7 linked regions of the Homo sapiens genome follow. The protein of the gene in region 7 purifies or fractionates together with the protein of the main gene of each other region. This does not show direct contact. Each region holds a gene or a part of one and is shown on either strand. Other genes may lie near its edges. The genes, in order: VAMP7, ANXA13, ABCB1, NEIL3, UBL3, LSS and EDAR.

Evidence for each region.
Region 1: the proteins of EDAR (region 7) and VAMP7 purify together in Homo sapiens (affinity purification with mass spectrometry; one large-scale study listed by BioGRID and IntAct). This does not show direct contact.
Region 2: the proteins of EDAR (region 7) and ANXA13 purify together in Homo sapiens (affinity purification with mass spectrometry; one large-scale study listed by BioGRID and IntAct). This does not show direct contact.
Region 3: the proteins of EDAR (region 7) and ABCB1 purify together in Homo sapiens (affinity purification with mass spectrometry; one large-scale study listed by BioGRID and IntAct). This does not show direct contact.
Region 4: the proteins of EDAR (region 7) and NEIL3 purify together in Homo sapiens (affinity purification with mass spectrometry; one large-scale study listed by BioGRID and IntAct). This does not show direct contact.
Region 5: the proteins of EDAR (region 7) and UBL3 purify together in Homo sapiens (affinity purification with mass spectrometry; one large-scale study listed by BioGRID and IntAct). This does not show direct contact.
Region 6: the proteins of EDAR (region 7) and LSS purify together in Homo sapiens (affinity purification with mass spectrometry; one large-scale study listed by BioGRID and IntAct). This does not show direct contact.

Annotation. Positions count from the first base shown.
Region 1 is NC_000023.11:155,890,792-155,895,364, reverse strand, and holds part of VAMP7 (vesicle-associated membrane protein 7), read right to left. Parts: intron 1-4,573. UniProt on the Homo sapiens protein: Involved in the targeting and/or fusion of transport vesicles to their target membrane during transport of proteins from the early endosome to the lysosome. Required for heterotypic fusion of late endosomes with lysosomes and homotypic lysosomal fusion.
Region 2 is NC_000008.11:123,730,519-123,735,091, forward strand, and holds part of ANXA13 (annexin A13), read right to left. Parts: intron 1-4,573.
Region 3 is NC_000007.14:87,548,334-87,552,906, reverse strand, and holds part of ABCB1 (ATP-dependent translocase ABCB1), read left to right. Parts: intron 1-2,068; coding exon 2,069-2,182; intron 2,183-2,328; coding exon 2,329-2,439; intron 2,440-2,610; coding exon 2,611-2,736; intron 2,737-2,852; coding exon 2,853-3,056; intron 3,057-3,388; coding exon 3,389-3,559; intron 3,560-4,573. UniProt on the Homo sapiens protein: Translocates drugs and phospholipids across the membrane. Catalyzes the flop of phospholipids from the cytoplasmic to the exoplasmic leaflet of the apical membrane.
Region 4 is NC_000004.12:177,347,207-177,351,779, forward strand, and holds part of NEIL3 (endonuclease 8-like 3), read left to right. Parts: intron 1-4,173; coding exon 4,174-4,343; intron 4,344-4,573. UniProt on the Homo sapiens protein: DNA glycosylase which prefers single-stranded DNA (ssDNA), or partially ssDNA structures such as bubble and fork structures, to double-stranded DNA (dsDNA).
Region 5 is NC_000013.11:29,840,044-29,844,616, reverse strand, and holds part of UBL3 (ubiquitin-like protein 3), read left to right. Parts: intron 1-4,573.
Region 6 is NC_000021.9:46,186,880-46,190,781, reverse strand, and holds the end of LSS (lanosterol synthase), read left to right. Parts: 3' UTR 1-2,336; downstream 2,337-3,902. UniProt on the Homo sapiens protein: Key enzyme in the cholesterol biosynthesis pathway. Catalyzes the cyclization of (S)-2,3 oxidosqualene to lanosterol, a reaction that forms the sterol nucleus.
Region 7 is NC_000002.12:108,908,859-108,913,431, forward strand, and holds part of EDAR (tumor necrosis factor receptor superfamily member EDAR precursor), read right to left. Parts: intron 3,907-4,573; coding exon 3,820-3,906; intron 2,215-3,819; coding exon 2,089-2,214; coding exon of another isoform or gene 1,993-2,088; coding exon 1,918-1,992; intron 1,675-1,917; coding exon 1,602-1,674; intron 1-1,601. UniProt on the Homo sapiens protein: Receptor for EDA isoform A1, but not for EDA isoform A2. Mediates the activation of NF-kappa-B and JNK. May promote caspase-independent cell death.

The sequences.
Region 1 (4,573 bases), on a different chromosome or scaffold from region 7:
GCAAAAGCATAATTGGACTCTTAAAGCATGAACAAGAGATGACATCTTAGGAGGAGGATGTAATTAAGATTAACCCCCAATAGGCCATATGGTTTTCTTTGCTTTTTCCTAAGTTCTTAAAGCAAACATCTTTTCTACCAAATTCTCAACATTTGAGTATCCACTTTGAGTTAGTTACTGTGCTGGATGCTGAGGATACAAAAAAGCAAAACCACCAAGTCCCAGTCTTCATAGGGATCACAGTGTAAGGAATTACAGTGCAGCATGGCAAACAGGATGACAGGAAAGTTAAAGGCAGTACATGGTGCTCTGGGGACACATTAATAGATGAGGCACGAAATGGAGATTTGCCAAAGGGTAACCAGAAAGACTTCCCAGAACAAGTGATGTCTGATTTAAGACCTGAAGAATAAGTAACAGATGGCAAGGTAAAGAGTGAGCGAAAGGCCAGGCGTGGTGGCTGGCTCATGCCTGTAATCCTAGCACTTTGGGAGGCTGAGGCGGGCAGATCGCTTGAGCTCAGGAGTTCAAGACCAGCCTGGGCAACATGGCAAAACCCCGTCTGTACACAAAATACAAAAATTAGCCAGGTGTGGTGGCACACGCCTATAGTCCCAGCTACTTGGGAGGCTGAGGCAGGAGGATCGCTGGAACCCAGGAGGTTGAGGCTGTAGTAAGCTGAGATTGCGCCACTGCACTCCAGCCTGGGTAACAAAGTGAGACCTTGTTTCAAAAAACAACAACAACAAAAAAAAGTGAGCAAAGAGTTTTTCCAGAGAGGAAGCAGCAAGCATAAGGGCCTAGAGGTAAAACAGCACCTAATAGATTTAGGAAAGTAAAATTGGCTCACATGACTAGAGTACAGAATGTGAAGAAAAAGTGAATTATCTGGACAGACAAGACTGGAGAAGTAAGCAAAAACCAGGTTATACAAGACTTTATAAACCACACTGTGCATTATCCTAAGAATAATGAATAAACATCCAAAAGTTTTAGCCTAGGGAGGGTGTGATCAGATTTGCACTTTAAAAAGGACACATTAAAAAAAAAAAAAAAAAAAAAACAAAGGACACATTGGCTAGAGTGCGGAAAACTGACTCAAAGGAGGACCAGACAGGAGACTACTGCAGTATACCGGGTAAGAAATGAGGAGGGAAATAAACTAAAGTAGAATGGGTAATAAAGAAAAAGGGACAGAGAAGAGATAGGAGGCAGCATTTATAGAACTTGGTGACTGGCGTGAGACAGGTTAACTAAATTTTGCCTCCCACATTTGTACCTTGGGCAAGTGGATAGATAGGGGTACCTGTTGAATTATATTAATGTTCACAGAGGACTGACATGAATTACAAGGAGATACAGGAACTCAGGCAAAATCTTTTCCTCCAATACTCTAAAACTATTTGCACCATTTCCACCAATGACTTCCACATTGCCATATCCAGTGGCTCTCTCTGAAACATATGATAGTGTTGACCACTTCCTTTTGGAAAGTGTTTTATCTTCACTAGATTTCTTGACATCAGGCTTGCCTGGTGCTATAGACTGAACTGTGTCCTTTCAAAATTCATATGTTACAGTGTGACTATATTTGGAGACAAGGCCTTTGGGAGGCACTTAAGATTAGATGAGGTCATGAGGGTGGGGTCCTCGTGATGGGATTAGTGGCTTTAAAAAAGAGGAAGAAAAAGATCACTCTCTTTCCACCACCTGAGAACACAGCAAGAAGGTGGCCATCTGCCAGCCAGGAAGAAGGCCCTCATCAAGAACTGAATTAGCGGGCACCTCACGCAGTCTCCAGAACTGTGAGAAACAAGTATCTGTTGTTCAAGCCACTCAGTCTATGGTATTTTGTTATAGCAGCCCAAGCAGGCTAATATACCTGGTTTATATCATAGTCCCTTTCCCTCTACACTAACGTTTTCTAGCTTCCTTAGCCTCCTGCTTTTTTCACACTTACTTACTCCCTGGAGGGCAGCATGCACTCTCATGTTTTGTTGTAGTTTGTTTTCAGCTACCACAATTATGCCAATGATTCCCAAATCTCCATCTGACCTATCTCCTGAGCTCCAGGACTACCTACACTACTGTCTACTAGACATATCCAACTGGACATACCATAGACAGCTTAAACATGACATGCCCAGAATGAAAGTCATCACTTTCCCCATAAAATTTGTTTCTCCTAAACCAGACTTGTAAGTCACTTGGTGCACAGGCCACAAAAGGTAACAAGGTATGATCCCTGCCATCAAGAAGCCTACAGTCAGGGTACAGAAATAAACAATCATTTCAATTATAATACAGTCTGAGGCCAGGCACGGTGGCTCATGCCTGTAATCCCAGCACTTTGGGAGGCCGAGGCGGGCGGATTGCCTGAGGTCAGGAGTTCGAGACCTGCCTGGCCAACATGGTGAAACCCCATCTCTACTAAAAATACAAAAATTAGCCAGGCGTGGTGGCACACGCCTGTCATCCCAGTTACTCGGGAGGCTGAGGCAGGATAATCACTTGAACCCAGGAAGTGGAGGTTGCGGTGAGCTGAGATTGCGCCATTGCACTCCAGCCTGGGCAACAAAAGCGAAACTTCGTCTCAATAATAATAATAATAATAATAATAATACAGTGTGAAAAGTGTTACAATATGAACAAACTAGATGCTATGTAGACACATAAAAAGAGTGTCTGATTGCGGTGCCTGACTCAGTGTTAATGTTCAGGGGTTTCTGGAAAAGGAAACATCTAAGCTCAGGCACACAAAGTGAGATTTTTAAAAAATTAAGTAGATAAATATATTCCAGTAAAAGGTAACAGCTATTGCAAAGGCTAGGAAGAGAGAAAGAACCTAGCATTGAATTGTAAATGGCTAAGTATGAAGTATGGCTGGAAAGCAAAACTGAGGACTAAAGTAGTAAAAGATGAGCCCACAGAAGGAAAAAGTGGCAGATCTTGAAGAATATTCCAAGTCCCGTTAAGGAATTTTACCTTGAGGGCAGACAGTATCTGTTGAAGGAAGGAATATGATCAGAACTGCCCTTTTAGAAGCATTAAAGTACAAATTAAGAAAGTATTTCGCTTGGGACCTGTAAAGTGAGCAAAAGTTTACAAGGAGGCTTAGGGGGAGAACAGCATTCCTAGAAGATAACAAAAGCATGAAAAAAAGGTACCAAAGCTCGAAATAACACAGCTAGATCAGAGACACAGGCAGAGAGGCATGGCAGACAGATAACATCTCCTTCTACTATAACTGCATTTTAATTGGATTACATATTCTATACTCTCTTAAAGCTACATATGGCTGTGACTAAATTCTGGCTCATAATACATGAGTGGAAGATATATGCCCTATTTCCCAGTCTTGCCTCTAAAAGGACGACTACATGTGCTTTCCCTGGACATTTTCCCAGGAACTGCCTAGAAACACAAAGACTGTAAGTCTAATACATTTTTAGAGAAAGTATAAAGCCAAAATCATAAGAAGCTAAGATTATTTAACCCCTAACCTCTAGGCCCACAAACCTACGCTGGCAGCAAGAGGACTACAAAATGGGTACAATTCCCAAAGATGATATACTCTCTAACTACCATTTTGGATGTGGCCAGAAAGGAAAAACTTCCTGGAGAACAAAGCCAGGAGTCAGGGAAAAAGGGTGAGGGAGTTCCTCCAAGAAAGCAGAACCACTAACCACTTCCTGGTCAGAATAGGGAGTCTTTGAAATTGTGTGAGGCAATTATTTGATCATTACTGGAAAGCAATGACTTCTACATGTTTCTCATTCTTCCCTTTTCCAAATGGGAGTTTGTAACTCTCACTGTGATGATCCTTTTCTTATTTCACCATTGTCTACTGGGTTAGGCTGGGAAAGCAGGGAAAACATATGACTTATCTTTTACTTTATGGTCAGTGGACCACAGGAGCCACACCAGGGCCTGATGGATAGGACTGTGTACCACCTAGACATGCTGGACTTGGAGCCAAACACAGTGACTAGATAGGTCTTTGGAGCTACCTCTCTCAGAGAAGAGGCGTATTCTATGTTTGGGAAGAAAGGTTCACTGAAATATCTGGGTGGCCAGGAGAGTAGACTGGAAGACTGCAAGTCATCCCCTGATATCCTATAACTTCCTCCAGAGTAACAGAGTTTTAGTTGAGCCTACGACTACATAGCCAGAGATGACAATTCCTGGCCTCCCTTCTAGCTATGCTAGCTACATGACTGTGTAGTGAACAGTAAGATGTAAGTGGAAGCTTCTCAACAATATCAGGCCACTTCTGGGCCCTGCCTTTAAAATTACTGGGCAAGCACTGGGATATAACAAGCACCAAAGGAGCTGCCTTGGCCAGAAGTGGAAAGCACTAATTGCTTTGGGAATTAGGGAATTGGAAATGGCAGAGCCACCCCAACATCCCAAACCACTCATCTCTGGACTATCTCATTAAAATTAATACTGTATCTTGGGGGTCTCTCTCATAGTAGCTTAGAGTACACCTTAAACTGTATAAGGGGTTAGCCATAGAAAGTAATAAGGACCTCATTCTGAGATAAGAACTAAGGAAGTAAGGCTGGGTTAA
Region 2 (4,573 bases), on a different chromosome or scaffold from region 7:
AACAGTATCACCCCCACCCCCTCACCCAACTCATGTCTACTCACAGCCGCAGAATTCACCTTATTTGGAAAGAGAGTCTTTGTAGATGTAATTAGTTAAGGATCTCAAAATGAAATCATCCTGGATTTAGAGTATTTCCTAAATCCAATTATTGCTGTCTGTATTAGCTCATTTTCAAGCTGCTAATAAAGACTTACCCCAGACTGGGTAATTTATAAAGGAAAGAAGTTTCATGGACTCACAGTTCCACATGGTTGGGGAGGCTTCACAGTTGTGGCAGAAGGTGAAGGAGGAGCAAAGTCACATCTTACATGGCAGCAGGGAGAGAGGGAACCCTGGGTGGGGTGGGGAAATGAGCAGAATGGGGGAGTTCTCCGGGCTGCATTCCGGGTGAGAAGCCTGAGGAGGCAGGTGTGGTGCTAACCCGGGTTTCAATGCCATCATCTGGGCATCTCTGTAGGTTGAATGGTGGGAGTTCCCCATAGTCAATGCTGAGGCACAGCCCCAGCCTGGGCATGGGAAAGGCTTATGCTTCAACTGTCATTCTCAAACTTGAGCACATATCAGTTTCACGTGGAAGGCTTGTTCAGATGCAGATTGCTGGATCCCATCTCCAGAGTTTTTGATTCTGTAGATCTGGGGTGGGGCTCCAGAATTTGCATTCCTAACAAGATCCTGGATTATACCAATGATGCGGGCCTGGGAGACCTCATTTGAAAACTACTGCACTAGAATACCTGACGTTAGACTCGTGGCTCTCAACTTTGGATACATTAGAATCATTTGGGGAGTTTAAAAATATACAGACGCCAGGGCCTTGCGCATGAATTGGTCTGGGAATGTAAATAGATATAAGAATTTGAACTCCAACTGGGCAAAACACTGATTTGTTTAAGATTTATTTAGAAAATGCAATGAATGCATTGATGAATTTATCCAAATTTTATTAAGCATCTACCATGCTGCAGGCATTGTGTTGGTGATGGGGATATATAGGTGAACAAAATACAATTCTACCTTCAGGAAACCATCAGTCCAGTGTGAGGCAGGTATACAAAACAGGTGGTTCTGTTGGGCACAGTGGCTCGCACCTGTAATCAATCCCAGCACTTTGGGAGGCTGAGGTTGGAGGATTCTTGAGCCCCGGAGTTCTAGACCAGCCTGAGCAACATAGGAAGACCCCCCATCTCTACAAAAAATTAAAAAGTAGCTGGGCGTTGTCATGCTCGCCTGTGGTCCCAGCTACTTGGGGGTATGGGGGTGCTGAGGTAGGAGAACCCCGAGAGGCTGAGGCTGCAGTGAGCAGTGATTGTGACACTGCACTCCAGCCTTTGCCACAGAGCGAGATCCTGTCTCAAAACACAAAACAAAAACAAAAAACCCAGATGGTTCTAAAACCACATGGGAGTGGAGTAATAGTTATGCAGAGAGAACTATGGAAGCCTTAAGGAAGAGCATCCAATCCAGCTTGGGGGGCAGGGGATGGAGAAAGCTCAGGGAAGGGGCTAAAGAGATGACGAGGTGATGATTCAGTTCAACAGTTTCAGAAATCCCAATAGGTTAATCTTCTATTTGGCGTAAAAAGAAGCTTTATTGAACCCAAGGCATAGTGTTAAAAATTTGTGCCTAAATCCAAATCTGTGCTTGACCTCTTACTAGCTGTCCAACTAGGAACAATTTACCTAAACTCTCTTTGCCTTACTTTCCCCATATTTAAAAGGGGACTAATAATAGTATCTCCCTGATAGGATTGTTGTGAAGACCAAATGACGTAACACATGTGAAGTGCTTGGTGGCGTGAAGGACTCAAACTTCCAGGGTCACTGTTCACACCCTCAAAACAGCCCACAGTCTAGTAAGCACTTTATAAATGTCAGTTATTATCATTAACATTTCAGAAGATCTCGTTTAAACTTCCAGTTACAACCATCACCACTGGGAGTTTTAGTTTTGGTTCCTGTTGCTGTGGCTGTAGCACTGGGAGGTGGGCTCACGCTGCTGGGACATGCAGGATTCTCTCCCCTGCACCAAGTGGCTCCAGACTCCCGCGGCTCTAGAATTCTTGTGTTGAGGTTTCATTTAACATGTTCTTCCTTCTATCAGTGTATCTGTCCTCTGCCGACTTCTTACCACCTCCTTACAATGGCTGGTTTGTTTTTTTTTTTTGCATCCACCATAGACAAAATATCCAAAAGGCCAAGATTGCATAATTGTACCTAAAATGTAGCTACCCTTCAGAGACTTGTCTTTAAATGAAGAAGGTATGCATTGGTGCATGTCATGCTTTGACATCAAAGGCCCTTTTCACTTCCTCCTACACTTTTGCAGTGGCATTCTGAAGGACTAACTTTCTGGGATAATAGATTTCCTGAGGTCAAGTGCAGTGGCTCACACCTGTAATCCCAGAACTTTGGGAGGCTGAGGTGGGAGGATCGCTTGAGCCCAGGAGTTTGGGACCAGCCTGGGCAACATAGGATGACCCGTCTTTAAAAAAATTAGCTGGGCATGATGGCACATGCCTGTAGTCCCACCTACTTGGAGGTCTGAGGTAAAAGGATTGCTTGAACCAGGGAGGTTGAGGCTGCAGTGAGCCATAATTGTGCCACTGCACTCCAGCCTGGGCAACAGAGCAAGACCCTGTCTCAAAAAAAAGTAATATTTCCTAATCTTATTTATTTAAGATGATCTTAAATAAATAAATAAATAAGGATCTTATTTATTTATTTAAGTCTTTTGAAATGATCTAGACTGCTTTCTGCTAGGGCTTGATCATGGGTCTTCTGGATTTGGGATCACAGTTTAATGCACACCCTTGGTTAAGACCATACTTATTTTAATTTCAAATTCTCAGCCATATTTCACCTGCCTCCAGAGCCTGTCTTCTTTTCTCAGGAATCTGGATCTATTTCCCCACTTGTCATGCAGCTTTCAGATGTTCTTTGTCCACGTTCATCTGAGTGTTCACCTTGCCTGGTGTTCACCTGCCACAAGTCCCAAACTGTTCTCCACTGGAGACAATATTTATGTTGGCTAAATATTGGCACAAGCAAGTCATAAACTTGGCATGTTCACAAACAACGTGGCAGACCACTGAACAGATGTTCTAACATTTACAAATCGGTTTTCAGTTAGGAGCATGTGCAATGACCATCTGCCTTTGTCCCCAGTGTGCAGAGCTCTTCTTGAAAGGTTAGCCATATTCTACAGTCCAGTGTTTCTCAAACTCTGCTGCACATTAGAGCCACCTGGGGAGCACTTACAAACCCTGATGCGCAGGACAACCACCAGACCAATTAATTCAGACTCTAGGGCTGGGACCCAGGCATCGGTGGCTTTTAGAACTCCTCAGGTGATCTCAATGCAGGCAAGTTTGACAACGCGTTCCATAGTCCAGTGCTTCTAAGATTTTAATGTGCCTGAAAATCACTTGAAGAGTCTGTTAAAATGCAGACTATGATTCAATAGATCTGAGTGGGCTGAGCATCTGCATTCCTAACAAGTGCCCACGCAATGTGGATGCTGCTACAAATCCAGGGACCATACTTTGAGTAGCAGGGCTGTAGTCCTTTCTATTGCCTGTTCATTAGCCTTGCAAGTAATTTCCCAGAAATCATGAGTCCATTTGAGTTTGTGATTATTTCCACATTTATCAATGGCTCTACTAGGTCTCCCTCCCTCTGTCATTCTGCACATATCCTATAGCCACACTCCCGTGGTAAAGTAATCTTAATATTGATCTCACTTCTGTATTTTTCCCTAGATAGTGATTCTTGTGAAAACCCAGACAATAGAAGAGTCATCTAGCTAAACCTAAGCAGATTTTTCCACTGATCTGATCTTTCTCTCTGTGTACACTCTACCTGCAAAGCTCACTGGACACAAGGACATGTCCTCCAGGATAAGGAAATTCTTTGAACATTGTGTGATTTGGCGGATGATAATGACCCAGTATCTTGGTTACTGCTGCTCCACATAGGTTAGTTACAAACACTAGGTCTTTGGTTCAAAAAAATCATTAATAGTGGCAAAAGAATTGAGGATAGCACAAAAGTAATTTTCGTTTCAGGATTGGTTAGGATTTCAGATGATAGTACCTTGAAAAATGCAATTTCCTGGCCAATATTCTACTGGCTCTGCAATAATAGTTGTCAATTATCTATGGGCCCTGGTCTGTGGACATATTCTTGGGGGAATAAAAACTTTTCTAGGAGTCTTTTGCATTTCATGCTGATAATAACTTAAAAATTAATATAAAGCATCCTAGATCATCAAGATGACCAAGTCCTGGCTCATGATTTAAATGTCTGCATTTGTGTTTGTATTTACGATTGTTTATATGCCAAACAGCCATACTTCAATAATTGCAGGCTAATGATGAAAGAAGAGTGAACAGAGGGAGATTTAATAGAAACACCATGTGTGTAAGCCGAGAGAAGGTCCCACGGCATTACAAGGAGGCTTACAAACAAAAGTGTCTCAGTAGGTTCAATAGAGAAATATGATAAAAGAACTCAGAAGTCACATACCACATCATATTTTAGATTTGCTGAGATTCAGAAAACAAACCAAACCA
Region 3 (4,573 bases), on a different chromosome or scaffold from region 7:
ACCAAACTCAATTCATATCTGGATCTAATAAAATACACTGTTAGAAGAGTCACTTAGTTCCTTTTTCGTAGGCCAAGCAGAAATAGATTGAGGCAATGAGAGATGATATTTTGTAGAATCCCTTAAAACAATTCCCTTTTTCAGGAGCCAGATTTGTAATATGGATTCAATAATCACTTCTTTTTCTTTTTTTTTCAAATTTGCCTTATCCAACATTGCTCAGTGGGGAATGGCTTTTCCCATGAAGTTTTTTTTTTTTAGTATAGTGATGCTGTGGGTGATCCTTGGTTGTCATAACAGATGTTTTCTGTTTAACTGTGATTGAGATAAGCAGTTTAAATCCAGTGTTCACTGGGCATGAATATACTTCACACACTGGAGGCATCCAAAATAGGGAGTGTGGGGTTTGATATCGGACCAACTTGATTCAAATGGCAGCTTTGTCACTTATTAGCTGTATGATTTAGGGCAGCCAGCTAAACTTTTCAAGCCTCTGCTACCTCTTCTGCCAAATGATATGACAGGAATGAACCCTAACTTTCAGCGTGTTTTGAGGACTAACTGAGATAATGAATATAGAATCACTTAGCAAAGTTCCTTCTGTGTAAATTATTGAGCAATATAATTCCATGTGATTTAGAAAAAATGAATAATGACATTAATTCTCATCAACCCCAAAGAGAAACACAGTTAAGTCTTTACCAATAAGAAACTGATTTGCACAAAACAAAAAAACAAAAGGCCTAAAGAGAACACGGCCTTGTGGCAAAAAAGACAACCTGATAAAGGATCAGTGTCTTAGGTGTGTGTGCTTTATAATTAACAAAAAATGTTCATATACACTGTTTTATCATGATACAACATCTCTATGATTGCTGGGTAGGGAGAACAGATAGAATCTTGCCTGTTTTTGCCAATGAAGAAATTGAAGCCAAAGATTCTAAGAGAATGGCCTAACAACATATAACTAGTTATTACTAATTTAGGATTCAGAACTGGGTCTTCTGACTCCTCTGCTAGCATTTATTTCCACTTTACCTTACTGATGATCTAAATAAAAAAAAAACTAGACATTGAAGAAATATAAAAATATCCTATTATAATATTCTAGCCCTGTGAAATTTAAATCATTGTTTATTGAGCAAGTAAGACTAATTCTGCATTCTAAATTGAAAAGTATTTATATTTCCAAAATATTTTTAGTATGGGCAACATAGTGAGATCTCATCTCTATAATTTTTTTTTTTAATTAGCCAGATATGGTGGCACTTGTCTGTAGTCCCAGCTACTTCGGAGACTGAGGTGAGAGGGTTGTCTGAACCCAGAGGTTGAAGTTGCAGTGAGCCAAGATTGCACCACTGCAGTCCAGGCTGGGCAACAAAGCAAGACCTTGTCTTAAAATTTTTTTAAAAAAATTTTATGCTATTTTTAATTGACAAATCATAATTGCATTACACTTACGGAATACAATGTGATGTTTATGTATACACACACATACACACAAAATGTGGAGTGATCAGAGCAAGCTAATTAACATATCTATCTCCTCACTTGACACCTTTTGAGGTGACACATTTGAAATTTACTCTTGGCTGGGTGTGGTGGCCCATGCCTGTGATCCCAGCACTTTTGCAGGCTGAGGCAGGAGGATTGCTTGAGGCCAGGAGACCAGGCTGGGACACGTAGCGAGACCCTGTCTCTAGAAAAAATAAAAAAAATTAGTCAGGTGTGATGGTGCATGCTTGTAGTCCTAGCTACTTGGGAGACTGAGGCAGGAGGATTGCTTGAGCCCAGGAGGTAGAGGTTATGACGAGCTATGATTGCACCACTGCACTCCATCCTGGGTGACAGAATGAGAACCTGTCTCTTAAAAAGGAAAAAAAATGAAAAAAGGAATTAAATGTACTGTTAGTTACAAACTTTTAAAATATTTTTAACACCTAGTATTTATATGTTGCCTCGCCATTTTAAATTTTAATTACCTATGTTAGAAAAAGACAGAAGAAGTATGAAAAAAAATTGCTGTCACTATCTCAGTAGCCTGATGGTTTTTCTTCACATTCCTCAGGTATTCTTTTCTGTATTAATTGGGGCTTTTAGTGTTGGACAGGCATCTCCAAGCATTGAAGCATTTGCAAATGCAAGAGGAGCAGCTTATGAAATCTTCAAGATAATTGATAATGTAAGTCTGAGTTGGCCATCTATCCACCTATCTAAAAGATTGTCCAGTTAAGTCAATTTCTTTGTCACTTTATCCAGCTCTCCACAAAATATCACTAAAAGTAGTTATTGTAACCTAGTAATCTCTTAAAATTTGATTCTGTTTAGAAGCCAAGTATTGACAGCTATTCGAAGAGTGGGCACAAACCAGATAATATTAAGGGAAATTTGGAATTCAGAAATGTTCACTTCAGTTACCCATCTCGAAAAGAAGTTAAGGTACAGTGATAAATGATTAATCAACAATTAATCTATTGAATGAAGAGTTTCTGATGTTTTCTTGTAGAGATTATAAAAAAGTGCATGTATATTTAAACCTAGTGAACAGTCAGTTCCTATATCCTGTGTCTGTGAATTGCCTTGAAGTTTTTTTCTCACTCGTCCTGGTAGATCTTGAAGGGTCTGAACCTGAAGGTGCAGAGTGGGCAGACGGTGGCCCTGGTTGGAAACAGTGGCTGTGGGAAGAGCACAACAGTCCAGCTGATGCAGAGGCTCTATGACCCCACAGAGGGGATGGTGAGATGACCCATGCGAGCTAGACCCTGCGGTGATCAGCAGTCACATTGCACATCTTTCTGATGTTGCCCTTTCAATTACAAATGTATGAAAGTCACACTTACTTTTTATTCCAGGTCAGTGTTGATGGACAGGATATTAGGACCATAAATGTAAGGTTTCTACGGGAAATCATTGGTGTGGTGAGTCAGGAACCTGTATTGTTTGCCACCACGATAGCTGAAAACATTCGCTATGGCCGTGAAAATGTCACCATGGATGAGATTGAGAAAGCTGTCAAGGAAGCCAATGCCTATGACTTTATCATGAAACTGCCTCATGTAAGTTGTCCTTGCCCTTTGCCTTTCTAGAGGTGCAAAAAATAAAATGCAGGCCTACTATGCAGGAAGTTAGGAAACTACTATAAATCGGAAGAAGGGAAATCCTAAGAAGGGAAAGTAAGATTACTTCAGATTTGAAAGCTCTAGCAGTATCAACTGGTCGTAGATACATTTTTAAAAACTGAGGTTGGTTATTGTGTTAAATAAGATTTAAAGAACTGGACCTGTATTACTTGTGAGACTTGGGCTGTGTATAGGATTCCTTACCAATTTAAAATATGAGCTGAGATAGCTTGTCCTTATGCTAAATCATTCTGGGTTTTCTGTGGTAGAAATTTGACACCCTGGTTGGAGAGAGAGGGGCCCAGTTGAGTGGTGGGCAGAAGCAGAGGATCGCCATTGCACGTGCCCTGGTTCGCAACCCCAAGATCCTCCTGCTGGATGAGGCCACGTCAGCCTTGGACACAGAAAGCGAAGCAGTGGTTCAGGTGGCTCTGGATAAGGTCAGTGAGGCTTAGTTCAAACCAACCTGATTTATAAGCATAAGAACATTCTACTACTAATTCTTGTTAATATTGGTCTTAGAAAAGGAAATTTCTGATAGCTTCTAGGTGATTCCTTCAGCTATTAAAATAAAAGCATTGGGCCTCTTTGAAATCTTTTTCTATTTGTTTGTTTTATTGTTCAATTTCTATTTATTTCTCTGATCTTATTTTAAATGTTGATGAATACATTTTCATTTGAAGACACTTGCTAATCTTTTAAATTAAAAAATAGAAATATAGACACATGTGAAAGTTCATCTTCATTGTGATCTTCAAAACTTGACTATGTGGATAACCCTGTTATTTAGGTTTTGAGAGTTTGTAATATTGCCAAGAAGAGAAAAATACAACCTGAAGGTCCATATATAATTTTCCAGGTGTTGAATGCCACTTGAAGACTCTATGCGAAATAAGAAACCTCTTATTTCCAGGAAAGGGGCAGATAGCCTGTGATACTGAAAACCTACCTAAGCCATGACAGGTTATTGACTATCAACAGAGTTTGACTGTCCTGCAATTCTGGAGTCCATATGACTCATTCACCAAATAGCATTTGAGTGTTTGCCGTGTGCCGGGCACTGTGCCTTTGATCTCCAGCACGTGATAGTAACGGGGATAATTCTGTGAGGACCGAGAATGTGGAGATGGAGACATTATAACCAAAGGTGTTCCAAGTTGAGATGTCACAGTAGAATTCAAAGATGAACTCATATTTGTTTCAACTCTCCCTGTCTCTAATAAAACAACACTTGAATGTTCCTTAACATCCTGTCAATGTGCTTAATAAATTTTTGAGAGAGAAAAAAAGCAGCTTACTAAACATTCTGTGAACCAAAATAGAGGCCGATGGGATTCTGGTTACTATTTTTCCCCTCATTTTGCTTAATCTGTGATTTCATCTCTGTGTTTTTCTTTTTCTTTCTTTATTTCCTTCCTTCCTTCCTTCCCTCCCTCCCTCAATCCCTCCCTCTC
Region 4 (4,573 bases), on a different chromosome or scaffold from region 7:
GTGGGGGAAATATTTCAAAGAAGGTAGCCCAGAAAAGCATAAAGCCTCTGAGTTGTTGAAGGAAGAGAAAGAAGGCATGTATGACTGAACCAAGCAGAGGGAATGAGAGACAGAGGCAGCCCCTCTGCTTGGGAGGGACCAAGGAGCATGCAGAGTCGGCTTGGCCAAGGCAAGTTTCTGAGTAGACTGGGGAGCCTTTGGAGGGTTTTGAACGGGCGTGAAATAACTGACTTAATGTTTGAAAAGATTAATCACTCTGGCGACTGTTGCCAATACTTTTGAGCTGGGAAGCCACTGGGAGAGTTTGAGCAGGAGGGCAGCATGAAGTGACTTGGGTTTTCTGAGGATGATTTGGGCTGCTGTGTGGAATAGAGACGGTCATGGAACCAGAGTGAAGCGGCAGCATCGGGGGCTCTCAACAGTAGTGCAGGTGGTAAATGCTGGTGACGGGGAAGAGAGAGAAGGTGGTGGGAAAAAAAGGTTGAATTTAGGATAATTTTGGAAGTTGAGTTAGGGTTAAGGCCAGAAATTTATATAATTTGGGGGCCCTTATTTATGAAAAACAATAAAAAATTATGACTACAACGTTAGGTCCTAATGTGAATATGTAGAATAAGAAATCACAACAAATTATATTTTTTAAACACCACAAACATCAGAAAAATGAGATATTATTAGTTCACTGCCTGACACAGCTGTGTAATTGTGTTCCTTTATGTTTTTGGCTGCAAACTCCTTGATTGCCTTTTCATATGACCACCAACAATATCATTACATCTTTTATTACGGCTAGATGAGAAAACTTTTAGCTTCACAATTGGCTGTTGATAGTGACACATCTCCAACTTCCTCTATCTTTTCTTTAAGCAGTACTTCTCTGTAAGGAAACCCTAAGAGCAGTGCCTCTCAAACTTTAGTGTGTACCAGCATTTTCTGAAGGGCTTGTGAAAACACAGATTGCCGGGCCCCACCCCTAGAGCTGGGGATTCAGTGGGTCTGAGGAGGGGCCTGAGAATCTGCATGTCTAACACGTTCCCACATGACGCCCATGCTGCTGGCCTGAGGACTTGACTTTGAGAACCCCAGCCCTTTGATCTTCCTCAGGTGCCTCAGGTTCCCCCCCTCTACCAGGTTGTTTCTGAGTTAGGGTGGGTAGTATAGGGGTAGAGTGGCCTGGCAGCCTGGATCATGGTGGCCTGTGAGCTCGGAACGATGCAGTATCTTTTGTTCAGGTCCTTCTCCTCAAGCCTCAGGGCAGAGTCCGCCTGCTCCTTGAGGTCACCAGGGCAATAGTTTCCCTGGGCACTGAACAGATGTGAGGTGATGCTGGCAGCACCCAGGCGCCAGGATTACCGCTGCCTGCAATCCTCTGAGTCCCCAGCATGTGGTCGAGTTATGGCTCCCATTCTCCATGCTGCCCACCCCAGTGTGCAGAGGACACGTCAAGCCATGGAAAGTTAAACTTCTTTTGCTTCATGTAAATTTGCATCTGCAGCAGATCCCACGGGATTTGCTGATGGACTGGAAGTGGGATGTGAGAAAAGGAAGTGTTAAGGATGACTTCTAGGTCTGGGCCTGATGAATTGAGCGATACTGATGCCATTTCCTGACATGAGATAGAATAGTAGAATTGCAGATTGGTGGCTCATGAATTTTTTTTTTTTTTTTTTTTTTTTTTTGACACGGAGTCTCGCTCTGTCACCCAGGCTGGAGTGCAGTGGCGTGATCTGGGCTCACTTCAAGCTCCGCCTCCCGGGTTCACGCCATTCTCCTGCCTCAGCCTCCCGAGTAGCTGGGACTACAGGCACCCGTCACCACACCTGGCTAATTTTTTTTTTTTTTTTTTTTTGTATTTTTAGTAGAGACGGGGTTTCACCGTGTTAGCCAGGATGGTCTCGATCTCCTGACCTTGTGATCCACACGTCTCGGCCTCCCAAAGTGCTGGGATTACAGGCGTGAGCCACCGCGCCCGGCCTCGTGGGTCATGAATTTTGTCTGTATTCATTTCCGCTGGCTGCCATCATAAATTATCATGACCTTGGTAGCTTAAAGCAACAGAAATGCATTCACTCAAACGCTGGATGCTAAAAGCTCAACATCAGTTTCATTGAACCAAAATTAAGGTGTGGGTAGGACTGTGCTCCCTCTGGAGGAACTGGGGGGAATCATATTCCTTTCCTCTTCTCGCTTCCGGTGCTGCCAGCGTTCTTTCATGTGTGGCTACATCACTGCAACCTCTGCCTTTGTGGTCTCCTTGCCTTCTCTTTGGTGTGTATCAAATCTCCCCCTCCCTCTCTCTTATAAAGACACTTGTGATTGGGTTAAGGGACCATCAGCTAATCCAAAATAATCTCTCTACGCCAAGATCCTTAATTACATCTGCAAACCCTCCTTCTTTATAAAGTAACATTTATAGATTCCTGGAATTGTGCCCTATGTCTTTGGGAGGCCATTATTCATCCTACTACAAAACATTAAGTTTGGGATTCTTCTTACACATCCAAGTGGAGATTGGGAAGAATTTATTAATGAGTGATTAAGAAATAGAGCAGTAAAGAAAGGAAAGAATGTTTCCAAAGCCTCCATATGTAACAATAAAATTCTCCTTATGATCAGGGAAACTTTTAGGACAGAAGAAAATGAAAATAGGGAAAAGTTGGAGCACATGGAAAATCTAAAAGTCATTTAAATTGTGTTTGTTTAATTATAGATAAATGCATCATGCTGCCTTTCAAAGTAAGTTAGTAGAGGACAGAGATTAGGTCAAATAAACAAATTCTGTAGAAGATCTGATATTCCATAGGGATAATAAATACTGAGTGGCATTAAAAGTCAAGGGAAGTAAAGATAAAAGAATCCTAATGAGATGTATCTTACTTTCAGATTTTCTTATTCTATTTATTATTTTACCAGACACTCCTGAATTTTAAAACTAGTGTAATTATATGTAAGGAACAAAATGTCACAGGAGACAAGGTTACCTTTGAAAGTCAAAGAACTCATGTTCTGAAATGTAAGATACATAGCCTTTACCTGCAAGAGCTTTGTTCAGTATTAATGTTTGGGATCATGAAGGGAATCCGTGATACTGCCATGGTTGCTTAACTGTGTGACATGCTCTATATCCAGACCTATAGCTAGCTGTGCATTAGAGAGTAGGACTATGTCACAGCCGTATAAAGGCATTTTGTGTAAAAATACATGGTCAATGAAGGACTTCAGATGGAGAATCATGATTTATATTTGTGGCCAAAAATCAGGGTTTTATTGTTTGCTTGCTAATCTATTAATTGGCTATCCACCATGAAACAGTCTTACATGAAGGGAAACAACACAAAGAGATATCTTTTTTCATCATTATGAATTAATGAATTTACATAGTGCTCAGCAGATACTGTAGAGAAATTCTAGAGTTTCCTGAGTTTTCTGTGCACATGAAGTAAATATAAAACTTTCACATCTTTCAATCCTCTAATTTCTGCATAGGTGTATTTTCCCATAATTTAATTGAATAAAGGTATTTTCATTTTGTTTGGGAAAAAAGTACCAATTACTTAAAACATTATTTGAGAAATACTTCCTAATGTGATATCAAATATTTTTAGTTGGTTTAAAAAAAAGCTACTCGATTATTTGACTCTAAATAACTTTTATTTGATGTTTCTCACTTTAACAACAATTAGTTGTTAAAGGGGGGTCCAGGTGAAAACATTTTACTCTGGCCAGGTGCAGTGGCTCATGCCTTAATCCCAGCGCTTTGGGAGGCTGAGGCAGGAAGATTACTTGAGGCCAGGAGTTCAAGACAGCCTAGGCAACACAGCATTCCATCTCTACTAAAAATTTAAAAATTAGCCAAGCAGACCAATGTGCACCTGTAGTCCTAGCTACTCAGGAGATTCAGGTGGGAGGATTGTTTGAGTCCAGGAGTTCGAGGCTGCAGTGAACTATAATGGTGCCACTACGCTGCAACCTGGATGACAGAGCAAGACCCCATCTCTACAAAAAAAAAAAAAAAAAAAAAAAAAAAAAAAAGACTCTAAGATACAGTACTAACTTCCAAGCAATAATAAAGAGATAGCATTGGGGTATTAATGGTTCTATAATCATTTCTAAAATATCCAGACAAGAACAAGGCAATAATAACAATGATTAATTTTAAAAATTATCTTATAGCAAGCTACCGACTAGAAATACTATAATCAGTTGGACATCTAGCAGGGTGGATCATGTTATGGACTCCGTGGCTCGGAAGTCGGAAGAGCACTGGACCTGTGTGGTGTGTACTTTAATCAATAAGCCCTCTTCTAAGGCATGTGATGCTTGCTTGACCTCAAGGCCTATTGGTAAGACTGAATTTTGATTTTGAGTTTGTTACATTTCTAAGAGGGTTAATTATACAAAGTCAGGAATATATCTTGCTCCATCTTGATATTCCATAACTAAATAAAATTTCTTTCTCAAAGGTTTAAAGGAATTGCCAGTTTTCACATGTAAACCATGCTAATATTCTGTTGAGTATTTTTTTTGAACAGGGAGGGAAAGCATGTTTGTGCTATAACAGTATGTGCCTTTG
Region 5 (4,573 bases), on a different chromosome or scaffold from region 7:
TGAATACTTGGAGGTTGAGTGTTAAGATAGCCCAATCTAACAATGTTGGATTACCATTGCATTTGCTTAAATGAAATATACTATGCATAATTTAACTTATTTTTGATGACTTAGAGCTATGATTTGAATAATATTGCTTGCATTCAATCAGTGTTTATTGGGTACCTGTCTGTGTAATATGGTAGTAGTATTAACAGGCATAAGCTACAACTATAATACCCTCGGCACCTAATATAGATTGTGAAGCTTTATGCCCCTTCACTAGATCAGTAATTTACAAAATGAGGTGAAGCAAGTCAATTTTGAGAAGTAAATATGAGAACTTCTGTTTGTTTATTTTGTCCCCCAAAAGGGAAAAGAATTGAGCTTTTCTATTCATACTATGTGAATTGGCTGTGAGGTTCTCCTAGGTCCACCTGCATTCAGGTGGTCACTGAGAGTGTGGTTTGCTGAGGGAAGATGTGTGAATTCTAGAATGTAGATGCCAGCAACAGCACCATGAGTTTCTCAGAGTTTTTCCAGTTTTTCTGTTATATAGTCCCTTTAAAAATACTTTTTAAAAGAAGAATCTATGATACTTCTTATTGAGATGGGGAACAGAGGTTTGCTGTCAAAGCATTTAAGAGTTGTAGAACTCAAAGATTAATCACACATTTTTATTACAAAAGATGAGTATTCTATATGCTGTTCTTATCCGTGATGACAAGAGGCTACCAAAAATAAAAATCTAGCGGATGTGTTTGGGAAAAAATCCCCAAGTTGTCACTTCAAGGCAAAATCGACATTTTAAACAGTAAGTGAGAAAGTACCTGCTTTTCAAAAGAAACATGTTATGGAGAACATTTTGAAAGCATGTTGAAGTATTTACAGTCTGTTGAAAATCTTCCTTACAATGAATTTTAATTGACTTTGGACCATTTATTGGAAAGCCAAACATTTTAATTTGTAAACATTCTTATTGCAGTCAGGAAAAAGAAAATTTTAATAACATTGACATCAGGTAGCTGACTTTGAATAAAAATGTTTGCGTATTTGGTGATAGAATGAAAAAGTAATATGATTTAGTAAGTTAGTAAGTGACATGTTCTTCTATATAGATCTCATCTTTGTAAGATAAGTTTTTCAGGTATGACTTATGACAGCTCTTAAAACCAAGTGCAAAATACATTGAACTTCACAAAAGAAGAAACTAAGATTTAAAAAAATGGAGATATATTTAATAATAATGCTCACCTAATATGTTAATAGTAATAGCATTTTTAGTGATTGAAAGATTAAAACAAGTTAATATTTAAAATAGTTGATAGTTAAAATAGTAAAGTAAAAACAAAATTTTAATCTTTTAATTTCTGTTTTTAGTATATGTTTTATACTATGTGTATGTTTATAAATGAAAACACATATACTATAGGTATGTGCCTCAAGTATTTTATATTTGGGATCTTCAGTCAAAAAAATGTAGGAGCCACTGCACTAGATGACTAAAGATTTCTGAGCATTTTAACTTCTTGTGTTTGATAGTTAGAAGTTTTCTGTCTCCTGCCTTGTTGAGCAGCTGTTTTTTCCTGTGATCAGTGTGCCTACTTATTCCTAACCATTTACAGTTGCTGGTTTTAATTTGCTATGGGTGTGGAAACCATATTTCCAAAGTTTATTAAAAATAATATGTGTTTAAAATGAGCAAATGGTGTCTGAGTAGGATTTTAGGAGTTACCTCACAGTAAAGTGAGTATCTTTTGTTTCATGGACTTGATCATATCTGTTTTGGTTGCTTAGAATTCTCTTTTTAGGAGGGCTAATTTTCTGGCTGTTAGTTATGTTTTGCAGAGATGCAGTTTCTTGATAGTGAAGAACTGCTTAGGTGATAAAAAAATTACACATAACTTTACTTTGAGCTCGTAGAGGAGAGAGAACTAATATTTGTTGTGTACTTTCTAGTACCAGGCAGATGCTTGGCATTTTACATTATAGCATTTAATTTAATCCTTACAGTCACCCTGGATAAATATGGTTGGTATATAGATAAAGAAACTCTTAATACCCACCAGGTGAAGACCACCAGGAATGCATCTGTGGTGAAACAAGTTAGGTTGACTGTTTTGCAGCTAGGAAGAGCGTATGCCAGATCCTGCCAAGTGTCAGTAAAAGAGAATGGGAGGGCTGGGCACGGTGGCTCACACCTGTAATCCCAACATTTTGGGAGGCCGAGGTGGGTGGATCACTTGAGGTCAGGAGTTCGAGACCACCCTGACCAACATGGTGAAACCCCCATCTCTACTAAAAATACAAAAATTAGCTGGGCATTGTGGCAGGCGTCTGTAATCGCAGCTACTCCGGAGGCTGAGGCAGGAGAATCACTTGAACCCAGGAGGTGGAGGTTGCAGTGAGCAGAGGTTGCAGTGAGCTGAGATTGCGCCACTGCACTCCAGCCTGGGCGACAGAGTAAGACTCTGTCTCTAAAAAAAAAAAAAAAAAAAAAAAAGAAAGAGAATGGGAGGAGTTTTCAGTAGGGTTTGGGCTGTGCTGGAAGCAGGGACTCCTGGACTGAATGCTATCGTACATCAACTGGAGGTGGGTTAGTAATTGGGTCTTTCAGCAGTCTTTGTTTAGGAGACAGGATAAATGAAGGGGATTTGGAAAGTCATTGGTGAGAAAACATAATCACTTACAGAATGGGAGATTGTTGGTCATTTTGGAGCTGCAGTGTGGCCATAGGAAAAACTTTTTACCTGTTGGTCTTCTATCTTTCAGATATCACAGTCTGATTATCAACCGAGCTCATTTTTACTTTCTCACAGCCTAGGTTCAGAGAGGGTAAGGAACTTGTTTGAGATCACATAGCGAGGAAGAAGTTGAGCTAGAATAGGAGTTTGGGTCTGGTGGCAATAGTGATAAACATCTACACCCCTCCCCACAACGGTAACTGAGCAAACATTACTGAATCCCTCAGGCACATTATCCTAAGAATGCCTTAGATTCCTTCCCAATACCTTGCTCCAGGGAGTCCCTACTGATTGGTCTGAGCTAGCATGGTAGAAATGAAACCTACTTCATATATCTTTGTAATAAACTATGTAACATCTGGATTGGAATGATTTTAATTAAGGTTGGTTGTCTTACTAATTGGTAAAATTAAAGGGAGTTTCCTTTAAACTTGTTGGAACTTTGAGTCTTCTTATGTATATATTTGTTACACAGTGGATTTTTCTTAAAAAGTACTACTTTGAATGCTTTATATATATATGTAACAAATAGATTGACTTGTAAAGGATTTAGTGATTTCGGGGCATTTTGTTTTTGTCTCCATACTTTTAACTGCATATATATATGTAGAGAGAGAGAGAGAGAGAGAGAGATTCTCTATTGGTTGGTCAAATCTAGTAGCATTTTTGGTCTTAAGTAAATATATATTTGGGTAATTTTCTGACTAGATTTTGAGAAGAAAATGTTCTTTCTGCTGAAGAAAATTGTTGAAGTTTGACATTAACATTTTTGTTTATGTACTTAAGATGGCAATTTATTGTGTCTAGACAAAATGTTCTTATGATATATGTTTTTCTTTACTTTCATATAAAATTAGTGTTTTTCTTTGCCTTAGAAATAGTCTTGCTTTTGTATCCTGCTATTCTCATTGTCATGTTAAATCAAGTTTAGCCTAAAGCTGCCTCCTTACATATTTAAAGCTCAGCCTATATTATGAACATCTATCTATGCAAATAAGTATAGAACCGTATTATAATTTTGAACCGATTATGATAGATGTATATAAATTATTTAGCGAATTCCATATTCATGAGCATTTAGAAGCTATTACAAACAATGACATAATGGATATTCTTAAACATATCTCTGTGCCTTGTCTGATTATTCCCTTAGGACAAAACTCTTAGTAATGTAGTTGCTCTGTCAAAAAATATGTGTTAATTTTGGGATGGGTGGGAAAGAGAAGGATATATATTTCCTAATTTTAAAACATCCTTGAATTTCTGGATAAACCTAGCTTTTAATTTTACATTACTCAAATGGTATATGCTAGATAATACTTCATTGAGTTTTTTTTTGTTCATGAAAACAATTGGCTAGCAATTTTAATTTCTTGTAAAGTATTTGACAGATTTAGGTATCAAGGTTATGCTGACCTCATAAGATGAGTTGGGAAATGCTTTTTAATACTCTGGAAGAATTTGTGAAGATTGATTTTATTCCATCCACAAATGTTTGAAAGAATTCACTGGTGAAGCCCTCTGGAGTTTTCTTGTGAAGATTATTGATTGTATTTCGTCAGTACATAAAAAGCTATTCATATTTTCTATTTCTTTGTCAATTTTGACAAGTTTTGCTTTTCAAGAGATTTGTCCATTTTGTCTGAATTTTCCAGTTCAGCTTAAGGTTTTTGTGTGTGTGTGTGTATCCTTTTATAATTGTTTTGGTATTTGTAGTATCTATGATCTCTCCTTTTCAAAATCTGCTTATTGTAATTTGGGTCTCTTTGTACGCAGTCTTTTCAGAGTCCATTTTCAGATAAATGTTGTTTTTAACTTTTTACTGATTTCTGCCTTTACCTTTATTTCTT
Region 6 (3,902 bases), on a different chromosome or scaffold from region 7:
GTTTTTTCTGACCAATAGCTGAGTTCTTGGGAGAGGAGCAGCTGTGCCTGTGTGATTCCTTAGTGTCGAGTGGGCTCTGGGCTGGGGTCGGCCCTGGGCAGGCTTCTCCTGCACCTTTTGTCTGCTGGGCTGAGGGACACGAGGGCAACCCTGTGACAATGGCAGGTAGTGTGCATCCGTGAATAGCCCAGTGCGGGGGTTGCTCATGGAGCATCCTGAGGCCGTGCAGCAGGGAGCCCCATGCCCCTGGGTCGTGAGCTTGCCTGCGTATGGGGTGGTGTCATGGAGCCTCATGCCCCTGGGTCGTGAGCTCGCCTGAGTATGGGGTGGTGTCATGGAGCCGCATACCCCTGGGTTGTGAGCTCGCCTGCATATGCAGGGTCTGTCATGGAACATCCCAAGTCTGTGCAGCAGGGAGCCCCATGCCCCTGGGACATGAACCCACCTGCGTGGAATGCTGTTTGTGAGGTGTCTACAGGGTTTATAGTAGTCTTGTGGACACAGAAATGCACAGGGGACACTTACGGACACAGAAATGCACAGGGGAGGCCGAGCATAACCAGGGGTGAGGGGCAGGCAGCAGTTGTAGTTACTGCCGCGGGGCACTGCTATGTGCAGGGACAGCCAGCACCCAGCCCATCACCACTCCCTGGGCTGGCTGGCAGGTATGGCACCCTGGGAGCCCGGCATATACCCAGGGCACCCCTACGGCTGCCGCCAGTCTCATGCCCAGGTGGGTGCTCTGGGCTGGAGCGAGGGCCAGGTTTTGGGCCGAGGCTTCCCCAGGCAATCCTGTGAGCTCCCTTCTAGCCTCTGACCCAGTCTGGTCTGGCTTGCATGGATGTAGGGCTTGGGGTGGGAAGTTCAGGTCCTGGCTTTGCCTTTGCCTGATGTGGATGAGCAGCTCACATGCTCAGGGCCACCTGAGACTGTCACTGCTCTCCCCTGGCTACTGGGAGGAGTCACTGAGAGCTTCGTTACCCCTGCTGCCTTGCCCAGGGCACACCCTATACCTCCTTATCTGCTCTTCCCCTCCCTGCCGCCTTCTGGGCAGGTAGCAGTCCCTGGCCTCTCCCCCTGGCTGATCACTCTCCCTCAGGCAGTGGAGATCTGCGTCTGGACACCCTCAGATCCTGTCATTGCCTGCCCAGAGTCCTTCAGGGGCACCCCTCTGCCTTGGTGTGCAGTCCAGGGCTCTCACCCAGGTGCCGCACCCTCTGGGGTCTTCTGTCCAGCTCCCTTGCCCCATGTGCTGTCACTGACTCTCCTTGGGACTCGCCTGCCTGCTCAGAGCCCTGCAGGGCTTGGTCAGCTGCCTGTTCAGTGTCAACACTTCCCTGCACATCTTAAAACTGGGCTTTATTTTCGCTGAAGGAACTGTGTTGGGACCCTTGACATCTGTCAGGTTTGCACATGCTGTTTTTTTTTCTCAGCCCACGTGTTCTCCCCCACGTGGGGTAGCAGCAGGACAGACAGTGAATCACAGAGTCTGCCCTGAGCAGAGGCTGCTGTCCCTGGGACTCCTAGCCATGGTCAGACTGTACAAAACGGTTTTCCAGAAATGAAATGTAAATCCATTTTTATACTGAAAATGTTACTGAAAGTCACTTTTATGAGCATCTGCCTTAATAAACAGACATTGATTCCCTTATCAGAAGCCTGTCACACTGTGTTTCGTTTCATCCTGGGGAGAACTGCAGATTTGGGGTTTCTGGCTGTCATACGTCACCTGCCTGTGGGGCGAGTGGGAGGCCCAGCCTGGTTTAGGGAACAAGAGTGACGTGAGGAGTAGCAGGGTGCGTCTCCAGTTACCTGAGGGAAAACAGATATTTTAAGAGATAATAGCATAGCCTATTTTAATATGTTTTAAAGGCCATAAGCATATCCAGGAAGATAAATAAACGTGATACAATGTCCACATAGGAGGAACTTTCTTTCACTGCATTGTTTTCCTTCACAGTGGCCTTCAAGTCACAGGACGCAGCGATTCCCTGCCCTCTTCGGTGTTATTACACAGGCAGGACTTCAGTGTCAGTATCCCTGCCTTCAGTCTTCTTTAGAAATCACATCTGTGTTCAATCCATTGTTTAGAGGGAGTGTATTTTTCCTGTTCCACGAAGAGGACTTTTTGTTCACAATTGGATCACAATGCAGAGGAGTCTGTTCCTCCCCCGTCGGCTTCTCGGTGCTGGGAGGGTGACCTGTCCCAGATGACTCATCACCCTGACATGCTCTTGACAAAGGACACCACCAAGAGGAGATGGCAGCTGTACCGGTGCAGCCTCTGTCTGAGGGGGATATTTGCCTCAGTGTGATTAAAAATCAGTCATGAAAGATTTTTGAATTCAGATTATTTTTATCAGGAACAGATTTTGAACATCCTGAAATCTTTTCCCTGGCATCATATTAGGTTTTCTTTGTTCACTATGATGTAAAGTTTCAGACTCTTGATATTTTTAATATCAACATAGACGGTAGGACAAGGAACGGTACCAGAAATGAGTAAAGAGACAATAATGATAAGATCGATTTATCAAGACATAACAACCCCAAATGTATATGCACTAAATAACAGCTTCAAAATACATGAAGCAAAATGGCAGAATTGAAGAGAATGAGATAAAAACAGAATTTTAACGGGTGCTTTCCGTACTTTGTAACTGACAGACATGAGATCTGTAAGGACAGAGATTTGAACATCAGCCAACACAAGCGAGCGGTCTTTAGAGGATGCTTCACCTAACACTGCTGAAGCACACGGCTTTGCAAGAGCTCGTGGCCCATGTGCTAAGGTAGACCACAGCTGGCTCACCAGGTGAGTCTCAGTATGTTAGCAAGGACGGAAGTCACACACAGCATCCTCCCCCACCACAGTGGAGTTAAACTGAATTGAAAATCAGTGGCAAAGGAGCAAAGGCAGTTCAATGGAGAAAGGACAGCCTTCAACAAATGCTGAAACAAACTCCATTTGTAAAAAAAAAATGAACCTTGACATACCCTTCACATCTAGACATACTCAAGATCAATCAGAGACCTAAATGTAAAACAAAACTATAAAACCCCTAGAACATCACATAGGAGGAAATCTAGGTGACCTTGGGTTTGGCAGTAACTCTTTAGATATGACACCAAAGGCATGATCCTCGAAAGAAAACATTAATAGGTTGGGCTTCATTAAAATAATACATTTCTGGCTCATGCCTGTAGTCCCAGCACTTTGAGGGGCCAAGGTGGGAGGGTCACTTGGGCTCAGGAGTTGGAGACCAGCCTGGATAACAGTGAAACCCCATCTGTACAAAACAGTCAGAAGATTAGGCAGGTGTGGTGGTGCGTGCCCGTTGTCCCAGCTACTCGGAACACTGAGGTGGGAGGATTGCTTGAGCCTGGGAGGCCGAGGCTACAGTGAACTGTGGTTGCGCGGCTGTGCTCTTAACTTGCGTGACAAAGTGAGACCCTGTCTCAATAAAATAATTAATGAAACTGAAACTTTCTGCTCTGCAAAGAATGTCAAGAAAATGAAAAGACAAGTCAGAGACTGGGAGAATATATTTGAAAAAGACAAAGGATCAGTATCCAAAAGAGCTCTTCAAACCCAACAATAAAACAACCTGGTTAAAAAATGGGCTGAAGGGGCCGGGTGCGGTGGCTCACGCCTGTAATCCCAGCACTTTGGGAGGCCGAGGTGGGCGGATCACAAGGTCAGGAGATAAAGACCATCCTGGCTAACACGGTGAAACCCCGTCTCTACTAAAAATAAAAAAAATTAGCCGGGCACGGTGGCAGGCGCCTGTAGTCCCAGCTACTCGGGAGGCTGAGGCAGGAGAATGGCGTGAACCCGGGAGGCAGAGCTTGCAGTGAGCCGAGATTGTGCCACTGCACTCCAGCCTGGGTGACAGAGAGAG
Region 7 (4,573 bases):
TAGAGACAGGGTAATACAAAGACAATGAGAACCATCATGAAGCCCCAGTGGGACCCACTTCCTCATCAGGCTTCAGGGCCTCACAAGGAGGTGGTAGGACCCATCCCTGTCCCCACTCGAGAGAAGGTGAGGTGGAGCAGGTGAGGTGGCACCCCAGGTCCTGTCTCTGAGACCTAAGGACAAACAGCAGGGACAAAAGCTCAGTGCCTTGCTGTCTTTTAACGTACAAGTGTCAGGGTTCAATTTGTATTTAATATTCGTGTATGAAAGCAGTATATATTTTTTCCTAATAGGGCCTCCAAATTTTCCCTGTCTTCAACTGCAACTCAAGTCATGGGGCACGTCTCTGCCTTTTTGATTTCTGGGAATAAGAAAAGCCTGAATATCAGAAGGGAGAGGCTGAGACAGAATGAGATAAGGCTGGGCTGGAGGCTGAGGAGCAAATTCAGTCTCTAGGGAGGCCCTATTTAAGAGTTCCATGCAGGGTGACCAGGTCCTGCCCTTGGTCCTGGGAGCAGCAGCTTGGATCTGGCACACAGGATCTCCACACAGATGCTGGATCGATTGGAATGGCTTTGCAAGGTGAATCATAGGAAGATCATGGGGTGGGGGCAGGAGAGGAGGGCTTAACCTCTGCTCTTCCTGTAACCAGTTTGGTGACCTTCTGGTGGCCTCTGTGCCCCATCTGCCAAGGGAGGCACTGTTGCGGGGGTGTCCTTCCAGGCGCAGCCTGCAGTGGCTGTCGGGCAGAGGCCTGGCAGGGGGGTCCGAGCACATTGCCTGGCTGGGAGCTGATGCTGTGGGGTTGATTTTTGGAAGCTACGCAGGACCAAGTCCAAATGACCATCCCACTGGATGAATAAAATATTGACTTCCCTCTACCCTCGATTTTAGAGCAGGGGCTGGTTCCACACCTTCATGTGTGGTAAACGCGGGAAAGGCTTCACCTGCCAAATCTCCTCCTCCAGAGGCCTCTTTACACCATGTGGCTCCTTGGGAGCCTGGACTCGGACCCCAGCCCTGCTGTTCACTAGTGTGTGACCTTGGGCGAGTGACAACTTCCATACCTCAGTGTGGTATCCTATAAACAGGGATGATACAAGCACCTTGCTCCTGGGCTGTGGAGGGAGGATGTGTTCACAGCCCTAGCCCAGCACTTGGTGGGCAGTAGGCACCAAATGCTGTTAGCCGTCATCACCACGGTTGTTACCAGCATTACGGTGGCAGCAGTACTGGCACCGGCACGGGTGGTACTGGTGTGTTGGCCGCAACAGGCATGCATCCTTGGCTTTATGTTCTGCCCTCCCAGTCTGGAGAAGGGGCATGAGGAATTCGGATGTTAAGGAGGAAGGCCCAGGGAATTTGGCAGGATGCAGGGACAGGGGCCTGACCCGAGAGCAGCAGGCAGCTGTTTCCACAGGCTCCTCACACCACCTGACCCCTGCCAGTCAGCAAAGAGGTGGTGGGGACTGTCTGTCGCCGAACGTCCCCATAGTGTCCCAGGCTAGCCTGTCAGTTCACTCGGCTGCACCCTGGTTCCCCTCCCTGCTCAGGATCCACAGGACCCCAGCTTCAGCTTGGTGCTGGGGGCTTCCACATACCTCTTGGTGGGCTTTGCTGGAGTTGCTGTCAGCTTCTCAAATTCATCCTTCTCGGAGAACATCACCACGTTGTCTGCAGGGAAATGGGGAGGTTGGGGAGATAGGAGTTAGAATTGGCTCATGGCTCTGCGCTCAGCCCAACCCTGCTCTTCCTGTTGGGCAGAGCTGCCCGGTGTCTGTGTGGCACCACCCCACGGTAAGCACAGTATGGTTCAGCATGTGAGAGCAGAAGCAGCGAGGAGGCTGCTTCTGGGAACGCCCTCCACCCAGAGATGGGCACCGTGCACATGGTGTGTGGAAGCCCTGGTTCACAGACCTGGGGCCTCTTTCTTCTCCTCGTCCTTGCTCACTTGGGCCTCCACGCTCTTCCCCGGGTGGCTGGTGCAACAGGCTGGGGAGAGAGGAGGGAGTGAGCAGCCAGGCTCTCCGACAGGGGGAGTTGACGGAGAGTCCAGGAAGCAGGGCACCGGCGCATGGGGGCCGTCACCTGGGGCAGAGGGCTTTGTCTTCAGGATGTAGAACATGATGATGAGGACGATGGCGATGGCCATGATGAAGATGGTGGACATTGCAATGATCAGGGCAGTGGCCAGGTGTCCTTGGCCTGAGAGTTCTGTGGGTGGAGAGAAGGCATGAATGACCCAGAGCTCAGGATCCCTGCTGGTCTTCCCTCCAGGACTCCGGCCCCTGGAAGCAATGGCCCTGCCCCTGGGATGCTTTCAGGGAACCCTGAAATCTGAGGTGCTTGCTTAGACTGAGAACCAAATCCTCCGCGCTGGTTTTGGCTGCCAGACCAGGACTGCCCACAGCCCTGCTCGCTGCCCTCAGACTGGCCTCTCCAGACTTCTCTGGGGTCACCTGATTGTTCCTAGGGAGTTTGCTCTTGCTTCTACTGCTTTGGCAACCTGAGGGCAGGGTTTGGTGTGGAGAGGAAGAAAGGCCAGTGAACAAGAGTGGCTGGAAGGCAGCACAATTCAAGTTTGGGCATTTCCAAACAAAAGTCAGGATGCGAAAGTCAGCTCTGGATTCCAGGTTTGGCTCCATCTTGCACCTCATGCAATTTCAACCTAAGTGTCATTGTAAGAGCCCCAGGGCACAGGGGGTGCCTCGGCTGGGCCACCTATTCCACCTGCACTGCCGCCTCCACCAGGCAGTCCCTCAGTCACCCCGGGGGATTTTGCTCAGTTCCCAGGTTAATGTCGACCCTGGATGCATAAAATGCCCTGAAGCTCATTCTCATTCTCTAAAATAACCAAACAGGACTCTGATTGTCTTGAACTAAGATCCAGATTTGCCACCACCCAAATAGACAGGAGACCAGCATCTGAAGCTCCCAAATCATCTCGGGGGAGGTAGTGCCAGAGCTGAGAACCCCGCATGTGGGCGCTGAGCCTCCCCTGTGGGTGCATCTGCAGGAAAACCAGCCTCCCAGCATCATCTGGGGAATACCTGTAATAGCGTTAGCATGCCAGGTCTGGATGACATAAGTGTTTTAATATTCTCCGTGTTTTGAGCTACTCCCCCCGGGGCCTGTGCAAATGAGATTCATATATCCTCGCCCAGCAGTCCTGCCTTTTGCTCTGCGTTAGCGCGTGGGAGGCCCAGAGATGAAGCTGACGAGCTGGGTGCTCTGAGGGCTCTGGAGGGTACCTCACGGCTCGCTGAGACCTGGGCCCGAAACATGCTTCAATAATGGGCTGGCACTAAACCAGTGAGAGAGAAAGGCCAAGCCAGCTGGAGGGCTGACTCTGAGAGACATATTAAACTTTGGGGTCCTCCTCAATCCCTTCTTCCCTGGTTAGGGAGAATGAAATGTACATTCTGCAAGTTAATATTAAAGTGCTATGGTCAGCATGTTTATATGAAAACCAGTGATAGAATTGCTGTTAACTCCCGGCCAAACCAAAGCCCAGGACGCCTGGTCTCTCCTCCTGGCCGGGCTTGCAGCTGCCTGTGCTGTCCACCTGCCGCTATGCCCCCGCCTTCACCACCAGCACCTCCCAGCGGTCCCAGGACACCCATAGAGGGATCAACTCTGATTGCAGATATAATGACTTCCTGCACGGGGGGCAACATGTCATTCAATTACATTAGGGAGGTGAGGCCAGGTGGGGAAGCGCACCATAATCATCACTCATGATCATTTCCTCTCCTCTTCTGAGCTTTCATCCGAGTACCACCTAACTCCAGGTGATCGATACCTGAGCACCCTCCTCACCTTTGTGGGCGTGCTGGAAGGGAGACAGGGTGCTGCTGCCCGAGGTGCCAGGGAAGTTGGCAGAAGCTCCTGAAGTGGCTCCCACACCTGCAAGGAAAATAGAGTCCCTCAAATGATCCAGAGAAGCTCCACCTTCAAAGACGCTGCCACAGAGCTCATGGATCTGGATTCATGATCATGAATGGGCCTGAGGCAGTGATGGCTGAGGGGAGCTAAATATTTGTATTTCTTAGACTGTTTAATGAACCCTAAAGAGTCATCGTTATTGTTCTTTTTTTTTTTTTTTGGTGAGACGGAGTCTTGCTCTGTTGCCCAGGCTACAGTGCAGTGGCGTGATCTCGGCTCACTGCAAGCTCTGCCTCCCTGGTTGACGCCATTCTCCTGTCTCAGCCTCCCAAGTAACTGGGACTACAGGCACCCACCACCACACCTGGCTAATTTTTTTGTATTTTTAGTAGAGACGGGGTTTCACCATGTTAGCCAGGATGGGCTCGATCTCCTGACCTTGTGATCTGCCCGCCTCGGCCTCCCAAAGTGCTGGGATTACAGGCATGAGCCACCGCGCCCGGCTGGTTATTGTTCTTTAAATGAAAACACTCATGTGATAAGTCTGCTAAAACTAAACAGTGTGGGTTGGGGAGTTTTGCAAGCCTCACCAACTCAATTTTCCTATGCGTGGAGACAAAGTATATGAAATCCATAAAAATAAGCAACATAGAGTGTGTACATGAAAGTACTATTAGGGTGATACAAT